Homo sapiens: one gene and its partners. The protein of the gene in region 2 interacts with the protein of the main gene of each other region in a pairwise test. Each region holds a gene or a part of one and is shown on either strand. Other genes may lie near its edges. The genes, in order: GAB1, STAP1, MET and GRIPAP1.

What was found.
Region 1: the proteins of STAP1 (region 2) and GAB1 interact in binary tests that used the Homo sapiens proteins (3 or more experiments, as listed by UniProt).
Region 3: the proteins of STAP1 (region 2) and MET interact in binary tests that used the Homo sapiens proteins (3 or more experiments, as listed by UniProt).
Region 4: the proteins of STAP1 (region 2) and GRIPAP1 interact in binary tests that used the Homo sapiens proteins (3 or more experiments, as listed by UniProt).

Annotation. Positions count from the first base shown.
Region 1 is NC_000004.12:143,465,867-143,472,894, forward strand, and holds part of GAB1 (GRB2-associated-binding protein 1), read left to right. Parts: intron 1-236; coding exon 237-359; intron 360-3,164; coding exon 3,165-3,323; 3' UTR 3,324-7,028. UniProt on the Homo sapiens protein: Adapter protein that plays a role in intracellular signaling cascades triggered by activated receptor-type kinases. Plays a role in FGFR1 signaling. Probably involved in signaling by the epidermal growth factor receptor (EGFR) and the insulin receptor (INSR).
Region 2 is NC_000004.12:67,561,707-67,568,734, reverse strand, and holds part of STAP1 (signal-transducing adaptor protein 1), read right to left. Parts: intron 1-7,028. UniProt on the Homo sapiens protein: In BCR signaling, appears to function as a docking protein acting downstream of TEC and participates in a positive feedback loop by increasing the activity of TEC.
Region 3 is NC_000007.14:116,752,175-116,759,202, reverse strand, and holds part of MET (hepatocyte growth factor receptor isoform b preproprotein), read right to left. Parts: intron 3,849-7,028; coding exon 3,688-3,848; intron 1,767-3,687; coding exon 1,664-1,766; intron 1,566-1,663; coding exon 1,429-1,565; intron 745-1,428; coding exon 583-744; intron 1-582. UniProt on the Homo sapiens protein: Receptor tyrosine kinase that transduces signals from the extracellular matrix into the cytoplasm by binding to hepatocyte growth factor/HGF ligand. Regulates many physiological processes including proliferation, scattering, morphogenesis and survival.
Region 4 is NC_000023.11:48,992,247-48,999,274, reverse strand, and holds part of GRIPAP1 (GRIP1-associated protein 1), read left to right. Parts: coding exon 1-37; intron 38-1,094; coding exon 1,095-1,121; intron 1,122-1,917; coding exon 1,918-2,025; intron 2,026-5,696; coding exon 5,697-5,847; intron 5,848-7,028. UniProt on the Homo sapiens protein: Regulates the endosomal recycling back to the neuronal plasma membrane, possibly by connecting early and late recycling endosomal domains and promoting segregation of recycling endosomes from early endosomal membranes.

The DNA of each region.
Region 1 (7,028 bases), about 76 Mb from region 2:
TCTCAATCTTAGTGTGAACCAAGTTTAACTTTTGAAACTACGTTTAGCTTGCTCTAAGCTAGGCTTTAATCAGTTTTTTAAATATTACTTATTTTCTTTCTATCCTAAAAGGTTGTTTAACTTTTTAAGCTATGTCCTCTTGAAAGCAAATATTTAGGCTTCCGTAGATGTTCAACAGTACGAGTGGTATGTCTGGTGAATGTCTGACCGTTGATTTTGTTGTCTAATACTTTCAGAATCTCTTTGGCAGTAACAGTCTTGATGGAGGAAGCAGCCCTATGATCAAGCCCAAAGGAGACAAACAGGTGGAATACTTAGATCTCGACTTAGATTCTGGGAAATCCACACCACCACGTAAGGTGAGTGACATGTGACATGTCTCTTCTTTGTATACAGTTAGTTCACACTTCAAACCTGAAGAATTATTTCCTTTGGGATAATTTTATTAAGTTATGTTTAATATAAATTTAGTCTGGTCTGCTACTTGATGCTATCTCATAAAACAAAAATAACATAGTTATGGAGACTGATTATTTTTTCCTTTCTGATGGTTAGAAATTTTATACTTTCTACTTTTTTAGTGGTTACCATTGAAATAGTTATTTAACAAATTCTTTTTTTTTTTTTTTTTTTTTTTTTTTGAGACAGAGTCTTGCTCTGTTGCCCAGGCTGGAGTGCAGTAGTGTGATCTTGGCTCACTGCAACCTCCGCTTCCCAGGTCCAAATGATTCTCCTGCCTCAGCCTCCCAAATAGCTGGGATTACAGATGCGCGCCACCACTCCTGGCTAATTTTTGTATTTTTAGTAGAGACACGGTTTCACCATGTTGGCCAGAATGGTCTTGAACTCCTGACCTCAAGTGATCCACCCACCTCAGCCCTCCAAAAGTGCTGGGATTACAGGCAGGAGCCACTGCATCTGGCTGTTATTTAATGAATTCTAAAGTTAACCAGTCTAGTGTCTTTACTCTCCTTAAAATGCTCAAATTCTGTGCTATCTTTGTCCAAAATTTTAATGTTGTCTTTTTGTTAAGCCCACTAATTAGACAGTATTATTACTGCTCTTATTATATAACAATGTTTATTTACATTTTCCTACATGTTGACCAGCTTCTTTGTCATTCCTTCCTATTTCTCAGACCTTCCTTCTGCAATAATTTTCCCTCCACCTGAAATATACCCTTTAGAAGTGCCTTTAGTGGAGGTCATTGGTAGTAATTTTTTTCAGTTTTTGTATAACTTAAATGTCTTTATTTTGCCTTCACTCTTGGAAACACAGTTTTCTTGAGTTTACAGTTCTTGATCAACAATAATTTTCTCTCAGCCCATGGAAGATACTATCCCACTACTGTCTTGCTTCTATTCCTATGGAAAAATTGCTGTCAGTCTAATTGTAATTCCCTTGTAGATAATGTCTTTTCTGACTGGATGAGTTTAAGGTCATTTCTGTATCTTTGGTATTCTACAGGTTCACTACAATACGTCTAGACATAGATTCCTTTTTATTTATCTTGCTTAGAAGTGCTGCCTTCTTTTTGGATTCATATTTTTTATCAATTCTGGGAAAGTCTCAGTCACTATTCAAATATTGCTTTTCCATTTCTAAAATGAAATTCTGTTTGGGTCTTTATCAAATATGTCTGGCCAATTTACTGGCTCCTTTTTCAATATCTGAAGTCCTTGGAGGTCTGAATCTGTGTATATTGTTTCTCCTATCTCACACTCTCTACAGTTTGTTTCTTTGTGTGTTTTATATATTTTTATTGCAACCTCATTTTGTTGAACATATCTTCTGAGGACCTAAATTTCTTCTATAAACTATTTGTATTTGCTTCTGCTAGGAACCAGGAGGTGCTACCATCCTAGGACCACATCAGTTCCCTTCAGGGGTCCCTAGCTTGATGAGATATTCTCAGTTTCAGCATCACCTCCAATGCAGGGCCTCCTGATTGCATTTTTGAGATTGACATTCATCCTAAAGCCAACACCACGTTTACCATTTAGAAGCTCACCACTCCCTCTACTTCTCTTATACCTTAGACATTTCACTTTCTAGTGAGCGCAGCAGTGCATTGATAATTTTATTTAAATATCTATATCTTGTTGAATTTTAGGAATGAAAAGGCATCAGCTTATGTAGTTTGTCATTCTTGAAGTATAACTTTTCCAAAAACATTTCTTGTTAGCTCTCAAAGTAAACATTGATTCATGTTCTCAGAGGTTGAGAGACAGTCAAGCTTAAGTTGACAGGAGAATCAGGTTGTCTATGTTAAGATGAAACAGGCATCTGCTGTCCCTATTTTTTATGAATTTCATCTGTCATGGAAGCATTAGTTTGAATTCTTTTTTTTTTTTTTTTTTTTTTTTTGGACGGAGTCTTGCTCTGTTGCCCAGGCTGCAGTGCAGTGGCACGATCTTGGCTCACTGCAACCTCTGCCACCCGGGTTCAAGCCATTCTCCTGCCTCAGCCTCCCAAGTAGCTGGGATTACAGGCGCGTGCCACCATGTCAGGCTAATTTTTGTATTTTTAGTAGAGATGGGATTTCAGCATCTTGGCCAGGCTGGTCTTGAACTCCTGACCTCGTGATCCACCCATCTTGGCTTCCCAAAGTGCTGGGATTATAGGCGTGAGCCACTGTGCCCAGCTTTGAATTCTTAAATATAATAATTTTAAATTTAAGGCAAAAATAGTATATAGTTAGGAGAGAGACATTTTTAAGTTGAGGTAGTTGATGTTATTTTTTGTGTATGACCCAGAAAAATTTTAAGAGTATTCATGGCCGGGCATGGTGGCTCACGCCTGTAATCCCAGCACTTTGGGAGGCCAAGGCGGATGGATCTTGAGGTGAGGAGTTTGAGACCAGCCTGACCAATATGCTGAAACCACATCTCTACTAAAAATACAAAATTAGCCAGGCGTGGTGGCACATGCCTGTAATCCCAGCTACTCAGGAGGCTGAGACAGGAGAATTGCTTGAACCCAGGAGGCGGAGGTTGCAGTGAGCTGAGATCGCACCACTGCACTCCATCCTGGGCAACAAGAGCAAAACTCCTTCTCAAAAAAAAAAAGTATTCACAGTGGATGTGTTTTGTGTTTTAAGACTGAGTTGTACTCAGGAACACTCCTTTATATGTTGGACTTTTTGTTTTTTCTTTGTGTTTTAGCAAAAGAGCAGTGGCTCAGGCAGCAGTGTAGCAGATGAGAGAGTGGATTATGTTGTTGTTGACCAACAGAAGACCTTGGCTCTAAAGAGTACCCGGGAAGCCTGGACAGATGGGAGACAGTCCACAGAATCAGAAACGCCAGCGAAGAGTGTGAAATGAAAATATTGCCTTGCCATTTCTGAACAAAAGAAAACTGAATTGTAAAGATAAATCCCTTTTGAAGAATGACTTGACACTTCCACTCTAGGTAGATCCTCAAATGAGTAGAGTTGAAGTCAAAGGACCTTTCTGACATAATCAAGCAATTTAGACTTAAGTGGTGCTTTGTGGTATCTGAACAATTCATAACATGTAAATAATGTGGGAAAATAGTATTGTTTAGCTCCCAGAGAAACATTTGTTCCACAGTTAACACACTCGTAGTATTACTGTATTTATGCACTTTTTCATCTAAAACATTGTTCTGGGTTTTCCCAATGTACCTTACCATAATTCCTTTGGGAGTTCTTGTTTTTTGTCACACTACTTTATATAACAATACTAAGTCAACTAAGCTACTTTTAGATTTGGAAATTGCTGTTTACAGTCTAACAACATTAAAATGAGAGGTAGATTCACAAGTTAGCTTTCTACCTGAAGCTTCAGGTGATAACCATTAGCTTATACTTGGACTCATCATTTGTTGCCTTCCAAAATGCTGAGGATAATGTATGTACTGGTGTCAGGACCTAGTTCTCTGGTTAATGTACATTTAGTTTTTAATGGTGGAACTTTGTTATATTTTGTTAATTACAGTGTTTTTGGTTCATTGAGTGAAGATTCTGCCGGGTGGGATCTTGCACCTTTGAAAGACTGAATAATTACACTACCAAGTAAGCCTGCAAATCATTGATGGCATGCAGTGATGATGTGCTCTTACACTTGTTAACATGTATTAAGTGTTATTTGCAAAAGGTAGATTATGTAACCAATCAGGTACGTACCAGGCAGTGATGTGCTAATACACTGATCAGGTTTAGACAATGAGCTTTGGTTGTGTTCTTGTTAGTCCTAATATTGGTTTTCAGTTTGGAATTAATAAAGCAGTTGACATTCACTGTTAGTTACAGCAACATACTGTGATTTTTAATTAGATAGTAATTCAGATTTATTACTCTATGAAATTCTGTCTTTTGACACCATAGTGCCCTTTCTATGATTTTTTTTACTTAATATTCTTCTTGGCCTTATATTTAATTCCCTATGCAATTAATATTTTATATCTGCATTTTTTTAAAAAAAATAGATGTTATATAAGTGATTCTCGTATGTAGCACCTGTTGCTTTTCCACTGAAAGAATTACGGATTTTGTACTGTGATTTATATTCACTGCCCCAATTCAAGAAATATTGGAGCCTTGCTACAATGTGAAATGTTATAGTCATGGACTCCTTCCAACCAGATTTCTGAAAACACCAGAGGGATGGTATAATTCTGTCTCACCTATAACATGGTCCTGTGACATAGATATTAAGACCACAAGTTGTAGTGAGGCTACAATTATATTCGTCTGTCTTGGCTTTGCAACATAATTTAGAAAGCACGTATAGTTGTTTTTTAACCAAGTTACATACAATCTCATGTACTGATTTGAGACTTATAACAATTTTTGGAGGGGGCATAGAGAAAGGAGTGCCCACAGTTGAGGCATGACCCCCTCCATTCAGACCTCTAACTGTTGCCTGAGTACACAGATGTGCCCTGATTTCTGGCCCATTGGCCATAGTACTGTGCCTAATCAATGTAATAGGTTTATTTTCCCAATCCTCAAACTAAAAATGTTCATAACAAGATGAATTGTAGACTAGTAACATTTGATGCTTTTAAATATTTGCTTCTTTTTAAACAAAAACTAAAACCCAGAAGTGAATTTTTAGGTGGATTTTTAAATAAAAAAGATTGATTGAGTTTGGTGTGCAAGCTGTTTTATAATGAAACAACAAAATGAAATCTAAAATCCTGAAATGTGCCTAAACTATCAAAACACACGATACAGCTAATGTGTAAAGATGCTAAATTCTGTTACTTGGAGGATGAATATATTTAAGATTTAAAACACAATAATAAATACATGATTAATTCAAAAATAAAAATCTTTACAGCTGCCTATCAAGGGTCTAAAGCACTTAATGAATGTTTTTAGTCTAACTTATCATTAACTTTTTACAAGTCACCATATTTGAAGATCTGTAGCACTCTGATTTTCAGAAAATTTTTCATTCTGAATAATTTAAAAATGGTGATGTATTAGAAAGGCAGTTTGCTTTAGAAAACTAAATCACATTGAACATTGTATTAGAGAATTAAATTAAAAGTTTCTTACAGAGCAGTATTTTCCAAACATTTTTAGCACTAGAATCTTTTTAGATGAAATTTTATGTATAACCCCAATACATAAAGCCTGAAAACTCAATTTTATCAATATAAATGTATTTTGGGTTCACATTTATGCTTATTCATTTTGGCTCATTACTAAGCATAATAAGATTCTGAGTTATTTCTGAATAACACAAATGTGGAGTTATACATAGTTGATGAAACCAGCAGCCAATTTATAGCTATGCCCTGTTTTATTTGTATACTATCAAGAAAATTTTGATTCACACAAATGTAAGCAAAAATAATAGGTTTTAAACATACATCTCAGGAAATTCTTTAATTAGAGATAGCTAAAGTTATTCAAGGTCTATACAAAAATAAGTTATCCTGGTAGTGGAAGTTAATACATAAGCAGTCTCCAGTGTGGTAAAGTAGGGTATGTAACACATCAGAATGTGCGTTTTTATTAGGTTTTAAAATATGCACGTATAAAAACTAAATTTGAATCAAACCCTTTTAACTCACCTCCAAGAAGCTAGACTTTGGCCAGGAATGGGCTAAAAACCACTGGTTAACGATGTGACAGTTATGATCTTGGAGATTGGAAATCTTTCTTCCACATTAGAGTTCTTTACCTTAATTCCTTATTCTGAAAAATTGTAAGATTTTATGAAGGTTTGAATACTGAAGCACAGTTCTGCTTTCAAAAATTAAAATTCAAACTTGAAAAAGCTGTTTAACCCATGGAAGATATCATTTAGTAAGATGTAAAAGATTTTTTAAATCTACACTTCAGTTTATACATCTTTATCATTATCAATACTATATAAGTTACTGTGAGCATTTTAGAGAATTCCATAAAGGTACTATGAGTGTGTCTGTATGTGTGTGTATATATAGCATTGTATTTAATCATAGACTAAATTTAATTTGATATAGAAATACTACTTTACTTGTACATTAAGGTCATAATTTCTGCTGGACTCTTTTATATTTAATTAATGGGGATTATAGTCTTCCTTCATAAATGCATTTAAACCTGAAATTGAACACCAGTGTTTTTCTTTTTCTACTTATGGGAAGTTGTCTGCTTCCCCCTTTAGAGAAAACAGTATTTTTATATTTTGTTAAAATATTAACTACTTTATGCCTACACACTATGCTGTAGATACTGATCATAATTCTTGGGTGTTCACAAACACTCCTAGTGCCTCTTTTTTGGCCCGTTGAAAGTGTTGGTATTACTACTTTCACTACAGAGCCTTTGGCCCTCTAATAATGCTGAGGTGGGCTGATCCTTCCCATTTCTGTCTTCGGGTCATTCTGGTAGGTCTTCTCCTCCACTGTCAAGTAAGCAATCAGGTCCGTGACAGGGATTGGACATATGAACAAATTAAGTGGATACACACAGTGAGAAAGATACATGCATTCTATGGTAACAACTACTGTCAATAACATCTGATGTTACATGCACATTTATATATATATAATTTTAAAAACTGAAC
Region 2 (7,028 bases):
TATATTATTGACAGATCAAGAAAATGTGAGAAATTGATAATTGAACACCATCAAAGCTGAACTTTAAAATCCAAATCTTATTGATGTGGTGAATATTTAATTATTAATACATTCATATTACTCTAGATTCTACAGAAATATGACTTTTGAAGTTTAAAATATTTAAATAACCTAGTTAAACTCCCATTTCATTCAATTAAGTTTATTTAAATAAATATGAAGAGTGACTATATTACAAAAGAATGGCAAGTAAGTTTTAAAAATAAAATCCTTTCACATCTAAAGATTTACTTTCATATGCAGCTTTTCCCAAAAGTGTGTTTTAAAAAAATTCCTGTTATTTTAATAAACATGTTAATCATTCCTTCCTTTATGGTTTGATAAGCTGATGTTTTACAACTTATTGAACCATCATGATATTGGCGATTAATATAAGAAAGTTATATAAAGGGTTTTCTCTTTTATTGTGCATGTGAAGATACTTTGTCTTATGGTATTTTGTGTCTCTTCAATATTAACATATCCTTTATGTTTTTTAACCAGTAAAATGTTTGTCGACTCTTCAGAATTTATATGCTTATTTTCTCAAATAATGACGACTCTATAACTCAATTTTGCTTTTAATTCCCTGGCTACCAGGAAGCTCAAGATTAAATTCATTTTGAACTACAATCACCATTTTTTTCTTATGCTCTTGGTAGAACTCTTTTCTTTCTTTGTCTTCATGCCTAATAAGATAATATATGAGTTAGCTTCTCCCATGTAACAAGTCACCCTATAACTTAGTGGACTAAAATAAGCAAATGATTTCTATTTCTCACCATTCTATGGTTGGCTGACGGCCTTTCTGATCTGGGCTTGCTTGGCTATGGCTGAATGGTCTAAGGTGGCCTCACTTACTTGTCTAGGGTCTTAGCTGGGAAGGCAGGAATGACTGGGAAGGGAGGGACAACTGGAGTCTCACTCTATCCATTCTTTTATCCAGTCAGCTAGCCTAGACTTGACACATGCTGGCAGAAGGATTACCAGGAACAAGAGAGAGCAAAACCCAATGGGCAAGCTTATTCTAAGACTTTGCTTGTGTCACATTTACCAACACATGTCACATAACCCAATCCAGATTCAAAGGCTAGAAAATTATTGTTTGCTGTAAGTTCAATTTTGAAACATAAAATAAAGATTAGAGAAATAGATTCAGCCTCTTTATAGGATGAGCAGAAAAGTCATATTTCAAAGAGAGGTACATACAGTAAGACTTGAACAAATTGGTAGTGTGACTGCAGCAATCAACCTCAGGGGCACATTGGAATTTGGGACAAGGTATCTTTGTTCAAGCCCTGCTGTGTTTTCACTCTATCCTCCCCCCAGTTGAGAACTGGTTATAACATGCAATGAACCTGCTGATGCCTCTTGAACCAAGGAACAAATTACCATAGAAAAGAACAATTCAAAAGGGCATATTATTGAAGGATCAGCCAATAAATGGTCCTCAAAGAAGTAGTTATAAAACTAGGCAAAGAGATTCTCTTTCTTGTCTGAAATCCAGATGCCCAATATATACCTGATACGTCTCAGTCAAGCAGTTTAATGACAAGAAAACACATCTTAATTTCAACCCCATCCAAAGTCTTTTCTTTCCTTCTTTTTATATAGGATGTAAAGTGTTATTGCTATAACAGTATCCCTTTACCTGTCTTTCTACCACTTTCTTATACTTTCTAATCTATTAATCTACTCTATTTTTATTTTATTTTATTTTTTGATGGAAGTCTCACTCACTCTGTGGCCCAGGCTAGAGTGCAGTGACGTGATCTTGGCTCACTGCAACCTGCTCCCCTCTGGGTTCAAGAAATTCTCCTGCCTCAGCCTCCCCAGTAGCTAGGACTACAGGCATGTTCCATCATTCCCAGCTAATTTTTATATTTTTAGTAGAGACGGAGTTTCACCATGTTGGGCAGGCTGGTCTCTAACACCTGACATCAAGTGATCTGCCCATTTCAACCTCCCAAAGTGCGGGGATTACAGGCATGAGCTACCGTGTCCAACCTACTTTCGAATCTATTCTGCTCAGTACTGCCAGGGTGAATTATTTCCTTTGCAGAGAGTAGGACTGAGTATCTAATAGGTGTGTTTGGGAGGCAGCAAGCTCAGCTCAGCCCCTTCCTGTCCTCTCTCAGCTCAGTCTACCAGGAGAGAGTGAGTGTACTGCTCTGTTCCCTGCCATGTGGCAAAGGGCCTCCAAGAGGTTCAGCTTGTGGCTCTTAATCTGAGTCAGTGACTTGATGTAGCTCAAGGCTACCCAAATCTGGAGTAAAATATAAGCACAGTTTTGGCCTTAAATCTAAACTGCACATTGATAATTTGTCAATAATAAAAGTAACTAACTGATCTTCATTTGTGTGATTTCTGTGTCTGGCTGGTTTCAAACTTGGGAGAAGAAAAATTCTAATAAAAGAGTATATAAAAAATGTAAAAAAGAGGGAAGAGGGCCAGGCGCGGTGGCTCATGCCTGTCGTCGCAGTACTTTGGGAGGCCGAGGCGGGAAGATCACCTGAGGTCAGGAGTTCGAGGCCAGTCTGGCCAACGTGGTGAAACCCTGTATCTACTAAAAATATGAAAATTAGCCGGAGTAGTGGCGGGCGCCTGTAATCCCAGCTACTTGGGAGGCTGAGACAGGAGAATCTCTTGAACCCAGGAAGCGAAGGTTGCAGTGAGCAGAGATCGCGCCACTGCACTCTAGACTGGGCGACAGAGAAAGACTCTGTCTCGTAAAAAAAAAAAAAAAAAAAAAAAAAAAAAAGCAGTTGGGTTGAGGGGGGAAGAGAAGTGGGTATGACTGCCCATGGAGCTTCTTTTTGAAATTATGAAAATGTTGTGGAATTAGATACTGGTGATGGTTGTATAAGTTTGTGAATATATCAAAAGACACTGAATAATAATAATTATTATTGTGTCTCCCATATGAGAGTTTACTTTAAGGAACCAAAAATAGGAGTACCCAAAACTAGGAGTACCCCATAAACACAACACCACCTCCTGCTATTGCTCCATAGAGTTGTTGAATAATTGAATGGACTAATAATGTATGTGTGTAAAGCACCTAAGACCTGGGACATAGCAAGTATTTCATAAATGTCAGGCACTTTAAAAAAAGAAAAGAAAAGAAAAAGAAGAGCATTGCCTCAACACTCACATTATTGGCAAGAACTTTGCATTTTTTATTAGCCACATAATACTTCTTCCATGTGGTGATTTGTATGTGTGGGTGTGATAGCAGTATCTAAAAATTTCTAAAATAGATCTCCTTCAATGGTAATATGTATGAGAAGGAGGAAATATTTTCTAAACCAGAATAATGAAACCCATTGTCATTCCTATGTAAAATCACCCTTTCATGTTTTCTTAAATAAAGAGGTTTAAAAATCCATTTAGAAATCTGGCTTGAGAAGTTGCTAATATATACTAGCACTGCGATCAGATAGCCATTCTGTAAAAAACCATATGGGAGTGACTAGTTTTTTTCACTCTGTTAAAAAATACTTGTACTTTCTCAATCTGACCTATAATTACATAACAAAATAATTAAAATTTATCTTGCAAGTTGTTTTGTTTCTTTGCTTATCCGACCAACTCTTTTTAAGGCTTCCCCACCCTGCATTAATGGTAAGCCTCTGCAATGAAAGGAGTAAATCAAGGCTCTCCTGTTTTTTGGAGCTGGGAAGCAGGTGAGGAACAGTGCAGGAGGAGATGGGAATGTAGAGAAATGCATATTGTTCTGAGAACTTTATCATCTGTGTAGTTTGTTTGTTTGTTTGTTTTGAGATGGAGTCTCCTGTCACCCAGGGTGGAATGCAGTGGTGTGATTTTGATCTCTGCTCACTGAAACCTCTGCCTCCCAGGTTGAAGCCATTCTCCCACCTCAGCCTCCCAAGTAGCTGGGATTACAGGCACATGCCACCATGCCTGGCTAATTTTTGTATTTTTAGTAGAGGCAGGGTTTCACCATGTTGGCCAGGCTGGTCTCGAACTCCTGACCTCAAGTGATCCACCCGCCTCAGGCTCCCAAAGTGTCATTTGTGCAATTTTACTAAAGTATGGCTTCTAAGATCTAGTCCAACTCCAGGATTGTATGATTCCTGGAGGAAAAAAATACAAGAGAAAACCCTGAAGTCAAAGCCTACCACTCTGTTCATCGTCCTAATCAGCCTCATAACTACAGTATTACCCTGCCATAAGGTATAAAAACTAGTATTACTGATAGCCAGTAAAGGTTTATTGAATTCCCTCTGTATGTACATGCAGACCTCCATTGCACTATCGAGAAAAATTGTAGAGGTGTTCAGTCTCAAAAGAATGATATGAATTGGGTAAAGTTAAATAGGGAAAAATGGGAGTTTTACAGGTAAGCAAACGTATATACTTGTGGAAAGGATTAAGGATTTATTAAATGGGGGGAAAAGCAAGTATAAAGGCACTAAGTTGAAAGCAAAGGCAGCCCTGGAGGAAAAGTAAGGTTACAAATAGCATTAGACCATGTGAACTGCAACCACAGCTGCAAACCTAAGGACAGACCAAACTTATATTCAGTATGCAGAGACTTACAGGTCACAATCTTGATTTCATTTCGATAAGATGTAATAAATACACATAGAATCTGAGTCATTTATAAATATCAATCTCAATAAACAACATCTAGGTACCTATTCATATCTAGAGAAATACTTAAAAATTAAAAAAATTAATTTGGAAGGACATATCTTTGGAATGAAGCACAAATTTCTTTTTTTTTTTTTTTAACAATCGTTTGTGTGAAATCATTGATGTAAGAAAAGAGGCTGAAATAAGACTTCTGAATTTATCACTAGCTTAACTAGGAAACCTACAATCAAATGGTAGAATTTGAGTTTGAGAAGCAGCATGGTCAAGTGCATCACAATCAAATCCAAGCTAGCCTCCTTAATGGAAGAGGAACCTTGAATAACCTCTGTGGCCAGAACTCACTCATTTGTTTATTTGGAGTTGTTGTTTTAGAGAGACAGGGTCTCGCTCTGTTGCTCAGGCTGGGGTGCAGTGATGCAATCATAGCTCACTGCAGCCTCGAACTCCTGGGTTCAAGTGATCCTCCCACTTCAGCCTCCCGAGTACCTGAGAATACAGGGTGTGCCACCACGCCTGGCTAATTTTTTGATTTTGTAGAAATGGGGTTTCGCTATATTGCCTAGGCTGATCTCCAACTCCTGGCCTCAAGCAATCCTCCTGCCTTGGCCTCCATAAGTGCTGGGATTACAGGGATGAGCCAGCATGCCTCACCTACTCACTCATTTGTGAAGTGAATAAAATAATTTCTACCCAGAAGAGTTACTGTAAGGATCACAGTGACAGAACACTAAGAGCCTAGAATGGGATCCATTATATGTTATACCTCAAAAGGTTGCATTCATTATTATATAGTCCACTTAGTCATTGGAGCAACCTATTCAGCTATGCAAGAGAGTAATTATTCTTTTTAGAAAGGAGAGAACAGATTTAAAAATGTGAAGGAATCGCCCAAATTCTAGAATTGGACTGATACTTTTATCTCTTGACTTCCCAGTGCTCTTTTCTCATTAATACAACTAGCAAAAATGAATTAACTAGCAAAAATGAATTACAATGCAAGCTCCAGTTAAGTTTCTCTTCCTCTGTCCCCAATAAAAAGCTCTCATTCTTTGTTTTTGTGCGCAAGTAAAGTACATTTACCTAAGGAAGAATGTTGTATAGTGGTCTCCAAAATGGGATGCATAAATTCCAAAGGTGTGCAAGATGATCCATTGGGAGAGAAAATTTTAGAATATTTAATTATATTTTATTTCATATTTCTTAATTCATTTTTTATATATCAAATAATTTACATGGATTAATAGTACGGGAATATATATATTTATAATTTCCAAATGAATTAATATTCTTTTTTTGTTGTTTTTGAGATGGAGTCTCCCTCTGTTGCCCAGGTTGGAGTGCAATGGCGCAATCTCCGCTCCCTGCAAGCTCCGCCTCCTGGGTTCACGCCATTCTCCTGCTTCAGCCTCCTGAGTAGTTGGGACTACAGGCGCCCACCACCTCGCCCGGCTAATTTTTTTTTTTTTTTTTTTTTAGTAGAGACAGGGTTTCACCTTGTTAGCCAGGATGGTCTCAATCTTCTGACCTCGTGATCCGCCCGCCTCGGCCTCCCAAAGTGCTGGGATTACAGGCGTGAGCCACCACGCCCGGCTGAATTAATATTCTTATATTAGGGATCTGTGCTCAAAATGTTTTCCTGAAAGGAGTGTGTTATTTTAAAATTTGGAGATTACTGCCATAGAGAACTGTGTGTGAGCACAACTTAGACAGCCCTAAAAAATTTCCTTTTTTTTTGAGACGGAGTTTCGCTCTGTCACCCAGGCTGGAGTGCAGTGGCACGATCTTGACTCACTGCAACCTCCGCCTCCCAGATTCAAGCGATTCTCCTGCCTCAGCCTTCCGAATAGCTGGGACCGGGCCCGGCCCACACACACTGTTTTTTTTTTTTACTTTAGCACATCACAGATTGAAGAAATTATGAGACGTTGCCCAAACTATCTCTTATTTTCTTTCTTTTTCTTTTCTTTCTTTCTCTCTTTCTTTCTTTTTTTTTTTTTTTTTTTTTTTGACAGAGTCTCGCTCTATTGCCAGGCTGGAGTGCAGTGGCGCGATCTCGGATCACTGCAACCTCTGACTCCCAGGTTCAAGTGATTCTCCTGCCTCAGCCTCCCGAGTAGCTGGGACCACAGGTGCGTGCCACCATGCCCTGCTAATTTTTGTATTTTTAGTAGAGACGGGGTTTCGCCATGTTGAACAGGTTGGTCTCCATTTCCTGACCTCGTGATCCGCCCACCTGGGCCTCCCAGAGTGCTGGGATTACATGCATGAGCCACCGCTCCCGGCCCACCCACACTCTCTCTTATTTTCAAACGGTCCCAGAAAAAATGAGAAATTTTCCCATTTGTAAGAACTGCGATGCCAATGGTATT
Region 3 (7,028 bases), on a different chromosome or scaffold from region 2:
ATTTCATAAGCTTAAGAAATGCATTTGTATTTTATTCACCGAATTACACAAAATAAATATTTCACCTCTGAAAAAAATACAAAGAAAACCGAACTTAACTATTGTTGCTAGACTGATAGAATTAACGGAAACAAGGCAGATTGAACTGGGTCCAATGAGATATCAATTCAAAGAGAGTCTGGCATAAAGAAAAGCTGTGTGTAAAGCAGGCAGGACAAAAACATATCTAGAGAATGGAAGAAAAAAGGTAATTCCACTTCTGGGCACTAAGGTTAGTATAGAATTGATATGTACATAATGTAAGTGCATGTATACTACAATGCCACATTAAACTATTTTGCTATACTCTGTTTAAATGTAATAGAACAGGATAAGATACTTCTTGGAATGAACTAGCATTGATAAGTCAAACTACACTCAGAACCTGAATATAGTTTTCTCTCCTGAATTGGAAAGAAGCCTTCAAAAGCAACATAACAGCATCAAAGCCAGAGATAAAACTGCAATTCCTCTTGACTATTCTACAGCAAAATCATCCTTGTATTCATTGTTTTCTTATACCCATCAGAAGCTTCTACTTACCTAATAAAAGATTTGGTTGGATGAATTTCATAGACAATGGGATCTTCACGGTAACTGAAGATGCTTGTCTCTCGGTTGGCTAAGTCAATTTTCAATTTAACAGCAAACTCAGTTGAAATGGTTTGGGCTGGGGTATAACATTCAAGAATACTGTTTGACACACTGAACAAAAAAAATTAAGGAAGTGAATTTTAGCTATTAGAGATACACATATTTTAGAATTATATCCACAAATCAAAAGGATATAACTCAATGGTTCCTAAGTGGGAATTTCCTGAGTGGAAGCCTTTTCTAGTGTAGGCTGTTTAATCTGACTGGATCTCAAACTTACCTTTGTTGTGGACAAGCTATCCTTGACTGGAAAACATTTGAGATTTGAAAAAAAAACCTTTAAAGTACTTTTGGTACTTGATTAAACTGAGCTCTTCCAACTCTAAGAAGCAGAAACATAACTGTCTTCCAGACCCAATTTTCCCCATTTCTTCCTTCCCCAGAGTGACTTAGTCTAATTACAAATCTTGATGAAAATGTTTATTTTAAATTATTATCAATGACCAGACTCTCACAGCTCATAGTATAGCTAAGATCCTAAGCTATAACAATAAAGAGGGTGGATGGGAAGACAAAACTGAAAAGTAGGATTGCTAAAAAACAAGAGAAAGGAAGAAAAATCAGCAAAAGGAGTAGATGAATTTTGGAAGGAGGAAGTTTTGTCAGTAGGAGAGTAAACAAATAAACATCTTGATTTTTCTTCTCCACACACACACACAAAACAATCTGCTTAATTTTTAAGGTACAGATATTAATTCAAATTGACAGATGCAACAAAAAATAAATTTACAACACCTTTTTAAAGTACATGTTTTTCCACCAATTGAAATGTGTCTAGAATTCCCACTGTTTAGGTAATTTCCAGTTAAAGTAAGTAAAGTGCCACCAGCCATAGGACCGTATTTCGGCGAAATACTTGTTATTACAGGATCCTGGAGGGGAGATAAAAACAAAACAAAGTAACTTGTTCATCTTATAATTTAAATAGATTAAGTAAAAATCAAACATGATAGGATAGAATCTTCCTTACCACATAGGAGAATGTACTGTATTGTGTTGTCCCGTGGCCATTTGAAATAATTATGGACATATTGAAATGCTTATTCATGGCAGGACCAACTGTGCATTTCAATCTGGAAAAAAAACCCAAAGTTTAATACATGACAAATCCAAGGAATTTTCTGGTTAGGTTGTTTTATAGGAAGTGACATTAACTCTAAATGGTGAGCTGACTGCTTTGAATAGCAAGCAGAGTTTCAAGATAAGCATTAAGGCCAAAAATTATATAATCCTATTTCTATACTATGATAAACTTAACTTTTATTTTTATGTAAAAAGAGACAGGATCTTGCTCTGTCACCCAGGCTGGAGGGCAGTGGCATAGTCATAGCTCACTGCAGCCTTGAACTCCTGGGCTCAAGGGATCCTCTGGACTCAGGAGTTGGAACTAGAGGTGCATGCCACGGCATCTGGTTAATTAAAAAAAAATTTTTTTTTTTTTTTGGTAGAGATGGAGTCTCACTACGTTGCCCAGGCTGGTCTTGAATTCCTGGGCTCAGGTGATCCTCCTGCCTTGGTCTGCCAAAGTGCTGGGATCACAGGCGTAAGCCACTGCACCCTGCTTATACTAAACTTTACATTAATGGTACTATAGCACTTATACAGACAAACAGGAAATATCAGACCTTATCCATAAAGACCTCACCAGTTGAATAGTGCATAATAATCTAAGTTTGGATAATATTAATATTTGGGGATAATCTTTGGTCCACTTCAGATGCATATGAAACAATGGGCTAACTACAAATAGGCCAATCTCTTCATTAAAGTATGTCAACAGGTACATTTCTGTGGTTATACTTGTACATGCTTATTTAAATTACTTAAATGATAATGAAATTGTGATGGCTTTCCATAGAATTATTTCTGAATGAATAATCATATAGTTCTGAGAAAATTTAAATACAATTTGATTTATTAAATAACTTTTTAAAGGAGAGAATGAATTATGCTTTACTTTTACAGGTCCTGATTTATATGCAATGATTAAGAGTTTTGGAGATTTTACAAGGGAGATTTCTAGAAAAAATTTGTTTTGCCATTCAGCTAACAAATATTACCTTCATTAGTGTTTTGGTCTCAGTAAAATGGATAGATTCGGACCTTTGTGTAACCCTGAAATGAATTCTATTAGATATAAAATAACCACCTGATAGAATGGGTTCAATCATAAAGATTCAACCATAAAACTTTAAATATTTGAGTGTTGTTATTATGTGATAATGAATAATTTCTGGATTCTCTGATGATTATGGAATTCAAAGCTTGTAGAAGGGTACATGTAGAATACAGTAGAACTAGCACGGGTCTTGGATCAGAAGATGATCAGAGCTGAGCTGAAGGCTTGTTCAGCTCTTACTCTCTGGATTACCTCTGTGAAGCCACACTTCATCTCTCTGAACTTCAGGTACCTCTTTTATATTATAGGAATGATACTGCTCCCTCCCAGGACCGTGGGGATGGTTCAGTGAGATACAGCCCATATATTGCAGTGCCAGTAAATATAAGCTGAATATAAATTTTAACTCATCTAAAAAAGTCTCAAACACGTGATTCAGCTGCCTCACTACATTTCTGAGGTTTAGAAAGTGAATTTAAAAGAGAGGATCCATGCTGAGCTGTTTACTGATTTCTGTAGAAAAAGCCTTTGGAGACTCTACATTTGAAGACTCCAAGGATGAAGTGATCCCAACTAGTGCTACTCTTGCAAATCTACTCAGACAACACCTGAAGACTTGTCGCATAAATGGTTGAGAAACTCCCATTTCTGGCCTCTTCTCTTCACCTAGGCCATGTCACCTTTCTCTCTCTTCAAATCCAATGAGTAAATGGGATTACAAGAACAAAACAGAACAGACCCACAAGGCATGTGACAGGCCAAGACCCTTTTTAATTCAAGAGATGAGCTTCTTGAGCAATTTTAAAAGAAATATTCATTCAAAAACAAAACCTATTTTCCAAGCACACCCCAGCAAAGCATTTTAAGATCCTTACGTATTCATCGTGCTCTCACTTAAAGTCAAGGTGCAGCTCTCATTTCCAAGGAGAACTCTAGTTTTCTTTAAATCAAATTTATTATTCCTCCGAAATCCAAAGTCCCAGCCACATATGGTCAGCCTTGTCCCTCCTTCAAGGGGTGCACTATTTGGGAAAACCTACAAGGACAACATAGAACTTTTAAAAAAACCCAATATATTATAATTTTTCACATATATGGAAAACGAACAAACAAAATGTATATCCTTAAATAGTCTGAAATTCTTTCATTTTCCCACAATTTAGTAAAAATTTAATTTTCACTAAAGGGAAAAGGGTCACAAATTTCAGAGCATCTGGAACAAACATTAAAACTACATGACATGTTAATGAAACAAGTTGTTTTCAGGAGATCCAAAGATGGGACAAAGAGCAGATGCAGCTTGGTAGGAATAAAGGGGCTTTTCGAGTCCTTCCGTTCTTTCTTTCTTTTCTTTCTTTCTTTCTTTCTTTCTTTCTTTCTTTCTTTCTTTCTTTCTTTCTTTCTTTCCTTTCTCTGCTTCCTTCCTTCTCTTTCTTTCTCTTTCTTTCTTTCTTTCTTTCTTTCTTTCTTTCTTTCTTTCTTTCTTTCTTTCTTTCTCTCTTTCTCTCTCTCTCTCTTTCTTTCTTTTTCTTTCCCTCCCTTCCTTTCTTCCTTCTTTCTTTTCTTTTCTTTTTCAGACAGAGTCTGGCTCTGTTGTTCAGGCTGGAGTGCAGTGGCGTGATCATGGCTCACTGCAGCCTCAACCTCTTGAGCTCAAGCAATCCTCCCACATTAGCCTCCTGAGTAGCTGGGATCACAGGCGTGGGCCACCATGCTTGGCTATTTTTTTTTTTTCTAGAGACAGGGTCTCACTACGTTGCCCAGCTGGTCTCAAACTCCTGGGCTCAAGTGATCCTCCTGCCTTGGCCTCCCAAAGTGCTAGGATTACAAGCATGAGCCATTGGACCTGGCCCTTTTTGGGCCATTCTGAAGTGAATTCATCTTCTAGGGCTCTTTAGGGTAGGAGTAGAAACACGTTGGGCCCAGACTTTTACTTGCTCATAACTCTGATTGTAACTCTTCATCAGCCTTCGGACTGAGCTCTTATCAAACTCCTTCATGTGCTCTATAAGCCAAGGTCCAGCCATTATACGCCTTGCTCTGTGCACTGGCTGCGTGCACTACATTCTGGTTGCTATGGTATTCCCCACCCAGAGACAAAAGTTGCACAGTAAAAATACCTCATTTGGTATCCAGTGTTTGCCCAGTTGCATTCAGCAGCTAGCATAATATGAAACATATAGATGGTTTTGGAACACATATCTGCCAATAATTCATTCATTCATTCATTCATTCATTATTTACTTATTTACTTTTAGAGATGGGGGTCTCACTCTTGCCCAGTCTGCAGTGCAGTGGCATAGTCCTAGCTCACTGCAGCCTCAAACTCCTGGGCTCAAGCAATCCTCCCGCCTCAGCCTCTCTAGTAGACAGGACTACAGGTGTGCGCCACCTCACCCAGCTAATTTTTAAATTTCTGTAGAGACGGGGTCTTGTTATGCTGCCCAGGTTTCATTAATTATTTCTTAATAAAGCACCTCCTATGCACCAGGCACTAACAAATGAAAAGTGAATCTACTTCTTTTTACCTATTAGTTCACATTTATTAATGACTGAAGATTTTTCCTTGTTCTTTAAATATGGTCACTATTTGATGTATACCAGGCTGGTTAGTTGACACACTCAGCCTTTTAAAAATTATGTAATATTTAATACATGTGTTATGTTGTTTCTTTTAGAAATAGATAAAAACGGAACCAGAGAGGGCCCAAAATCAGTATTGTAACAATTTTTCCTAATTATCTTCATTGGTATTGTTTTATATCTCATTTTTAGGATTAAATTTTTCCCCCTGATGGTTGATGTTAAGCAAATAACAGACTCATTTTGTTATTGCAGACTCATTTCTGGTATGTTATCAATGGATTTATTGATAAACCTTGGTCAGTCATGATTTAAGACCGCATTAGGCACCTATAAAGTGTGTAAGATAATTGCTCTCAGGCTAAAACTATTAAAACAAAACACATTTCCAAGTTAAAAATAAGCTTCTTCTCAGCAGCTTTGTGACAATTGAGAAAGGAAATGCTCTTTTGGGGGTGGGGACATATTGTAAATTGTGCTGTAAAGTACAATGGTGGGAAAACTAAGATAGAGGCAACTCAAGAACCAGTAAAGGTATTTGCTAAAGCTCAGCTTGTGAACATCTAAAAGTGATTCTTTTACAATTAAGAAGGGCTTTTAGCCAAATTCAAACTTGCAAACATTTCCATCCTTCCTAAGTAAATAATTGCAAACCAAAGTCTTAATGTACCCTCGTTATCAAACCCCTTTAAAGTTTTAGCTTAAAGCTTTTATGATAGCCATTTTACCCATAAAAATCCATTACACTGTTGTGCCTTTCCTGAAAATTTACCTCATCCATGTCTAGTCAAATGAGAACTACTAGAAAAATAAATCTGTTTATTATTATTATGGTAGAAATCCAGTAGGAGAGAACAAGACATCCAACCCTCCCAGGACTCTCTTCAGCCTGAGGCAGTCACACAGCTGCTGCCGGCTCTTCTAATGAGGAGGCTTCCCCACTGAAAACGCTGCCCAAGGCTGATGTTGGCCTGATCCCACTGCCTACATCCCGTCTTTCTATGTAAAAACTGAAGTCTGTCACTCTACACACATCATTACCATCACTTTCTATAAAAGGCAAACGGATTGGGTGATGATTTGAGAAAAGACGCAGAGAGCTGCGCAACTGGGGCACTGGCAATAGGAAGAGATATTATAAGCCCTCTGCTAGACCCTCAGGATCCAAGAGGCTCGCTCTGCTTAGCTTTTCTCTCTGGGCTGGGCATTTTCCCCTTAGCTTATGGGGTAACCTTTACCCTTCTAGGGAAAAAGGAAGGAAGCAGTTGTGAACTACACACCCTTGGATAGACCCAACAATGGCTGGCAAACTCTGAGTTATCCTGAAGGGCAGAGAAACTCTGTGGGCAGGAAATGAGCGTCCGGCATAAAGCCACAGAGGCTGGGTCTCCTACCTGTCTGGATAGGGGAGATACAGCCACAAAAGTAGCCCTTGTCTTTTCACAGGTGAAAGATCACATCACTGATGGGCCCATTCCAACAGTATTTTAAATGATCATGCTTTCAAAACCCATTAGGATAAAACATGAGAAAACTAAAAAACAAAAACAAAACAGAACAAAAAAACTCCAAAAGGGGTCTCCTTTCCTCTTTAGTAGAACTCACAAATATATTTACTGGTGGCAGTATACTG
Region 4 (7,028 bases), on a different chromosome or scaffold from region 2:
CGCCTACTTGGATAAGGAGTTCAGCAAAGCTCAGAAGGTACCTCCCTCCACCCACCCATCCACCTACCCATCCACCCTTGCTTCTACCTATCTGACTCATTCATCCCTCCAGTGAGCACCTACAGTGAACCAGACCTAATGTTGCATGCTGTTTTCACGTAGTCATTTAAAGGATTCTCAATGGAATTCTCTTTAGTTGCTAATTTTACCTAATCCTGCTTAATTTAGTGATTAATTTTAATTTACTTTTAATTCATTTCTAATTTCAGTTACTCATTCTCATTCACTGACTTTTAATTAAATATTCAAATCTATCAGTAAATCTACCTCGAATCTGCCTCCCATCCTCTACTCACACTCCTGCCTTGTGCTCCTACTTCCCATCTCTGTCCTGGTCCAGTTGGGAAAATGAGAGCAAACCCACCTCTCAGATCCTCTAAAGATGAGATAGGATATAACCTATTGTGGCCCCTCAAGACATTCGAGGTGCTCCTTTGTCACTGCTCTGTCCCCATATCTAGCCATACCTAGCACAATGTTAATACATAATATGTGCTCAATAAATATTTGTTGGATGAACGAATACAGTATGCAGAAAATCCGACAGTCAGGAAGCTGCACTTCTCTTTGGTAGGATGCTGATTCCCCTAAGCTGGCAATGCTCTTGGCTGCCCAGTAGGGGAGCGACAGTTTCCACACTGCGTGGGAGGGACCCACAGAGACATGTATGGACAGATGTAGCAATGAAGCCACAGTTTCTGAGTCTGGAGATCCAGCCCATAAATGGTTAAATACCAGGGCATCTCCCTACCTCCCCTGTCCCCCCACCAGCCTCAAGAGCTTCCAAGAAAGGATGATTTATGTGTGCTGGGGCCCCAGGGCAAGACTTGCATTCATTCACTCACTCACACACTCATTCCATCATTCCTTTGGGCTCCAAATTGTCACACATGTTCTGTGGTTGAAGATGCTCCCATCCTGCAACCCCTGTCATCCTTGTCCTCCCAAAACGCTTGGCACAATTGTCTCCATATCCTAGTAAGGCAGTCCATCTCTGTTCACTTTAGCTCTCTTCCCACCCACCCCCACTTTAGGCACTGAGCAAGAGCAAGAAAGCTCAGGTAAGGGGATCCCTTGTGGGTGAGTGTGACTGGGAGATGTCTTGGTGGGCTATTTCTGTATGCTGATATTTCCTTGTACTGGCCTTTCTTTCTTTGTGTGCCTTTACATCTGCTACTACCTCACTGCCATGTGTTGCTGTATCTGTCCTTGTTTCCCTGTATTTGTCCTAACTCTGTGTCTCTTTCCTTCTCTCTCTTTCCATTCTTTTCTCTGAGTCTCTTTCTGTCTCTGTCTGTTTTCCTGTTCCTGTCTCTCTGACTCATTTCTCTTCCCAATCTTCTCTTTGTCTCTCCCCCTCCTGTTCCTGTCTCGGTGATTTCTCTTTTTTCTGCTTTCTCTCTCTAACTCCTTGTTTCTTCCACCCCATTCCTCTCTCTTCCTAACTCATTTCTTTTCCTGACCCCTCCTCTTCTCCCTGTTCTGTTCTCTCCCTGTTGATTTCTGTTTGTTCTTCTCTCCGTCTTTTTCACTCTCTCCCTCCCAATCCCTCTCCCCTTTTCTATCTCTCCCCCTTTCCCCATCTCTACTTCCTCTCTCCCCAATCATTATCTTCCTGTCTTTTCCTCCGCTCTCTTCCTCCCTGTATTCCCTTCTCTCTACCTTCCCATGTCTTTATCTTCCTTTCCCTGTCTCTCATTTTATCCCTCCCCATGTCTCTTTCTCCTATATCACCTCATTCTCTGTACCCTATGTCCTCTCCCACCCATGTCATTTTCTCCCTCTCTCTGTTTCTTTGCCCTACCTCCCTATCCTTTTTGCCCTTGCTGGAGTCCTGGCCCTTGTCTGCCACTGCAGGAAGTCGAGGTATTGCTGAGTGAAAATGAGATGCTGCAGGCAAAGCTGCACAGCCAGGAGGAGGACTTCCGTTTGCAGAACAGCACACTAATGGCCGAGTTCAGCAAGGTGCTGGTGCCTGGGATAGTCAAAGGGGAAATGAGGGGTAGGGGTCATCTGGGCTGAAACCTAACAGCGGCAGAGAGTGATTGGACAGGGTCTGGCCCTGGAGCACTGTCCGTGGTGCTGAAACAGGTCCTGGATTGCTGCTGGGGGGCAGTAATTTGACAGATGGGGCCGCTCACTCTGCTGGGATTAGAAGGCTTTGAGCCCTGAGGTCACCTGGTTCCTGGCCAAGTCACTCCTTTTATTTGAGCTTCAAGTCTCCATGTGTATAATGTGGGGTTGATGCTGTGGTGCTCCAAGGTGTTGGGGGGTTTTAGGCAGAGTTCTTATGCTTAATATAGGATGGAAAAGTGTTCGAGCTTCTTCCCTTTTCTCTTTCTTCTCTTCATCTGACATGAGCCTGGGGTTCTACCTCTTCCAGATAATTCATCCTGGAGCTACTAATTCTATCTCCCCATTGATTTTAGTGTCCTGTCTGTTTCTAAATCTACTGGGCAGTTGGAGACATTGTCTTTTGTTCCCTCATCTATCTTCTGTATCCACAGTTGATAATTGTCTATGTTTTTAGTGTGTTTTAAGGAAAAAAGTCTCATGGCAGCAAATTTTTTTGAGATGGAGTTTCACTCTCATTGTCCAGGCTGGAGTGCAATGGCATGATCTCAGCTCACTGCAACCTCTGCCTCCTGGGTTCAAGCGATTCTCCTGCCTCAGCCTCCCAAGTAGCTGGAAGTACAGGCATATGCCACCATGCCTGGCTAACTTTGTATTTTTAGTAGAGATGAGAGAAAATGACATGGGTGGGAGAGGACATTTAGTAGAGAAAATGACCATGTTGGTCAGGCTGGTCCTGAACTCCCGACTTCAGGTGATCCACCCGTCTTGGCCTCCCAAAGTGTTGGGATTAAAGGCGTGAGCCACCGCGCCCGGCCCAAAAATGGTATTTCTAAGGCTCCATCTGAGAATATAGTGCCTATGACCTTAAAAAAACAAAACCGAAAATAACCTTTAAGCAGGTACAATACCAGGAGAGGCAGTTGAGCAAGTAGTAGGTACCAGCAGGGACTCTGGAACCAGAAGGCCTAGATTAAAATCTTGGCTCTACCTTTTACTAACTGTAACCTTGAGGAAGTTACTTAACTTGCCTGGTTCTTGGTTCCCAAATGTTTAAAATGGAAGTCATGATAATAACAGTACCTGCCTCTTCACAGGGCTTTTGTGAGGATTAAATGAATAAATGTACGTAAATCACTTAAAACAGAGCCTTGCACATAGTATCAGCTATGGAAGCATTAGTTATAATATTATCCTTCTATTAACTCATCTTCCCTCTAAAATATTTGACTTTTTAAAAGTTTTATGGCCGGGCGTGGTGGCTCAGGCCTGTAATCCCAGCACTTTGGGAGGCCAAGGCAGGCAGATCATGAGGTCAGGAGATGGAGACCATCCTGGCTAACGTGGTAAAACCCCGTCTCTACTAAAAATACAAAAAATTAGCCGGGTGTGGTGGCACGTGCCTGTAGTCCCAGCTACTCGGGAGGCTGAGGCAGGAGAATCGCTTGAACCCGGGAGGCGGAGGTTGTAGTGAGCCAAGATTGCACCACTGCACTCCAGCCTGGGCGACAGAGCAAGACTCTGTCTCAATTTAAAAAAAAAAAGTTTTATATCCACCCTGTGGCCCTGCTTTGCCTTAGCCTCTACCACTTATCATCTGCTGTTTCTACAGCCGCCTCCCTGGTCTCTTCACTTCTAGTTTCTTCTACTTAGTTCACACCACAGAGGCTGTTCTGACCTGCAGATCTTATGACATCACTCCTTTACTTAATACATTCCAGTGCCCCAGTCCTGCTCCTAGTTCAGAGCCCCTGGTATTCACATAACTGCTGGCTTCACTGACTGACTCCTCACTGCTTCCTGCCTCCAGCCTCCATGGTATCATGATTCTTGCAGAGTGAGGCAGGGGCAGACATTCTTCCATAAATCCAGCTTGTTTCCCTGCATCTGCCCTGGGCCAGCACTGGGCTAGTCGTAGAGACTTCCTACATAGTCCCCTTCCTCCTCCAACTCCTCCCAGGAACTGGAAGTGCTCTCAGAGAGAGCTACGTTAAACCTGCCACCACCCCTTATTCATCAAGACATTTCAGCTTAATTGTTCCTTCGACAAATAGTTACTGAGTACCCACCACATGCTCTATGTTCTGGAAATACAGTTGTAAGCAGCACAGAATGATCTCCACTCTTGGGTAGCTTACATTCTGGGGGTGGGATGAGGAGAAAGATGATAACAGTAAACAAATAATACTAGTAGTGATAGCTGACATTTATATGGTGCTTACTGTGTGCCAAGTCCTGTTTGAAGTACTCTACATTATTCACTCATTTAATCTTTGAAATAAGCCTATGAGATATTAGTATCCCTATCTGACAGATGAGGAAAACTGAGTTCCAGGGAGATTAAGTAATTTGTCACACAGCTAGTAAATGGCAGAGCAGAAATTCACATTCAAGCAGTCTGGTTTCAGAATCTGTGCTTGTTACAAAAGAAAATTTTGATTAGTACTAGGTAAGAAAGAAATGAACAGTGCTGTGACAGAGAGTACTGGAATTTTCTGTGTTGAGGGATACTACTTTAAAGGCAACATCTGAGCAGAGCACTGAGGGATGCAAAGAAGCCAGTTAGGTGAAGAACTGGATGAGAGGATTGGTGTTCTGGGTAGAAAATATTGCAAGCAGGCCGGGTGCGGTGGCTCATGCCTGTAATCCCAGCACTTTGGGAGGCCGAGGCAGGTGGATCACCTGAGGTCAGGAGTTCAAGACCAGCCTGGCCAACATGGCGAAACCCCGTCTCTAATAAGAATACAAAAATTAGCCGGGCACGGTGGCGCATGCCTGTAGTCCCAGCTACTCAGGAGGCTGAGGCAGGAGAATCACTTGAACCCGGGTGGCGGAGGTTGCAGTGGGCTGAAATCGTGCCACTGTACTCCAGGCTGGGTGACAGAGCGAGACTCCATCTCAAAAAAAAAAAAAAAAAAAAAAGAAAGAAAATATTGCAGGCAATAAAATAAAAATTCTCTGTAGGCCTCGATATTCTCATCTGAAAATGGGGACAAGGAATTTTCTCAGGACTGCTTTGAGAAGTGTACTTCAGCCAGGAGTTGGGCAGGGGGCTGGCTTAGTTGTATTGGCATTGTATACCTCTCCAAGACTAACGGCTGGCAATGCAGGAGCTGTCATCAGTGTTGGCCCTGGAAATGCCCTGCGAGCTCTTTGTGGTGCTTAGGATGAGAGGGAGCTATCTCTGGGCCCAGGATCCAGCCCTCCACAGAAGAGGGGTTGCAGTGAGGCTGTCTGTAGCACTAACAACTTCCAGAGGAGCCTGAGGTCTTGGATTGCATCTCTGAGGTTGGGAGTAGGAAGAGGAAAATGGTTTTTGGTGTCCTCATACTTGGTATGCTCTTGGTATTCTCTGACTCTGCCACTTAAAAGATGTGTGAATTTGAACTTGTTTAACATCTCTGTGCCTCAATGTCCTTATTTGTAAAGTGGGAGGGCACCTATATCATAGGGTCATTATGGGAATTAAGTGAATTGTAAAGTACATGGACAAATGCTATGTAGGTTTCAGCAAATACTGCTCTGATTCTCTGCTTCTCTGCCCCTTCTCTTCCTCTGTTCAGCTCTGCAGCCAGATGGAACAGCTGGAGCAAGAGAACCAGCAACTGAAGGAGGGGGCTGCAGGAGCAGGGGTTGCCCAAGCTGGGCCCCTCGTGGATGGGGAGCTGCTGAGGCTACAGGCTGAAAACACAGCCTTGCAGAAGAACGTGGCAGGTGCATAGAGGCCCTCCTGGGGATGCGGAGACATTGGGGCTTGAGTAGGGCAAGGAAGGCCGTCATCCTCTCAGGGGAAGGAGAAGGGCTTCAGAAATAGGGTTGGCCCATGCCCTGTGTGGCTTTGGACAAGCCATTTCACCTCTCTGAGCCAAAGCCTTATCATCTACACAGTGCATGTAGTGATGTCTGTCACCCAGAAGATTGTAGTAGAGATAAAAGGTGATATCATTCTGCATTAGTTCAGTGTCTGGTACCTAGCAGATGTTACAGATTAGCAGCTTGAATGTCAAAAAGGAGATATTTGCGGCCGGGCGCGGTGGCTCACGCCTGTAATCCCAGCACTTTGGGAGGCTGAGGCGGGCGGATTGCGAGGTCAGCAGATCAAGACCATCCTGGCTAACATGGTGAAACCCCGTCTCTACTAGAAATACAGAAAATTGGCCGGGCACGGTGGCGGGCGCCTGTAGTCCCAGCTACTCTGGAGGCTGAGGCAGGAGAATGGTGTGAACCTGGGAGGTGGAGCTTGCAGTGAGCCGAGATCACACCACTGCACTCCAGCCTGGGCGACAGAGCGAGACTCCATCTCAAAAAAAAAAAGGAGATATTTGCTAAGTGAAAAAGTGAATGGAGTGTTGGGAAGATTCTGAGCCCAGATTGTAAGTGGGGTCTGGGATGAAAGCTGAAAGAAAGCTTGATAGAGTGTGGGAGCATGTGGTGTGTGGAACTTTGGAGAGCAGCTGGGACTTCTGTGGTGATGGATGCTGGTTCCATGACCAGGAGGGAGACTTAGTAGAATGTGAGTAGGAATTAGGAGGCTCTAGGAGGGATTCAGCTGTAAGTCAGTGGTAGCATATGGTGGGCATGGCCTTCAAGGGCTATGGGTGGGGCTTCAAGGATTGAGAATGGGATTTGTGAAACCAGCTTGGGCTAATTTAATAGTAAACAGAATCTTAGTGGTTGATAGGGCTTAAAATATTTGTGAGAGCCTGGGCACAGTGGCTCATACCTTGATTCCAGCACTCTGGGAGGCTGAGGCAGAAGGATCTCTTGAGGCTAGGAGTTTAAGACCAGCCTAGGCAACATAGCAGGAACTTGTGTGTACTAAAAATAAAATAATTAGGCCAGGCACGGTGTTTCACACCTGTAATCCTAGCACTTTGGGAGGCCAAGGTGGGCAG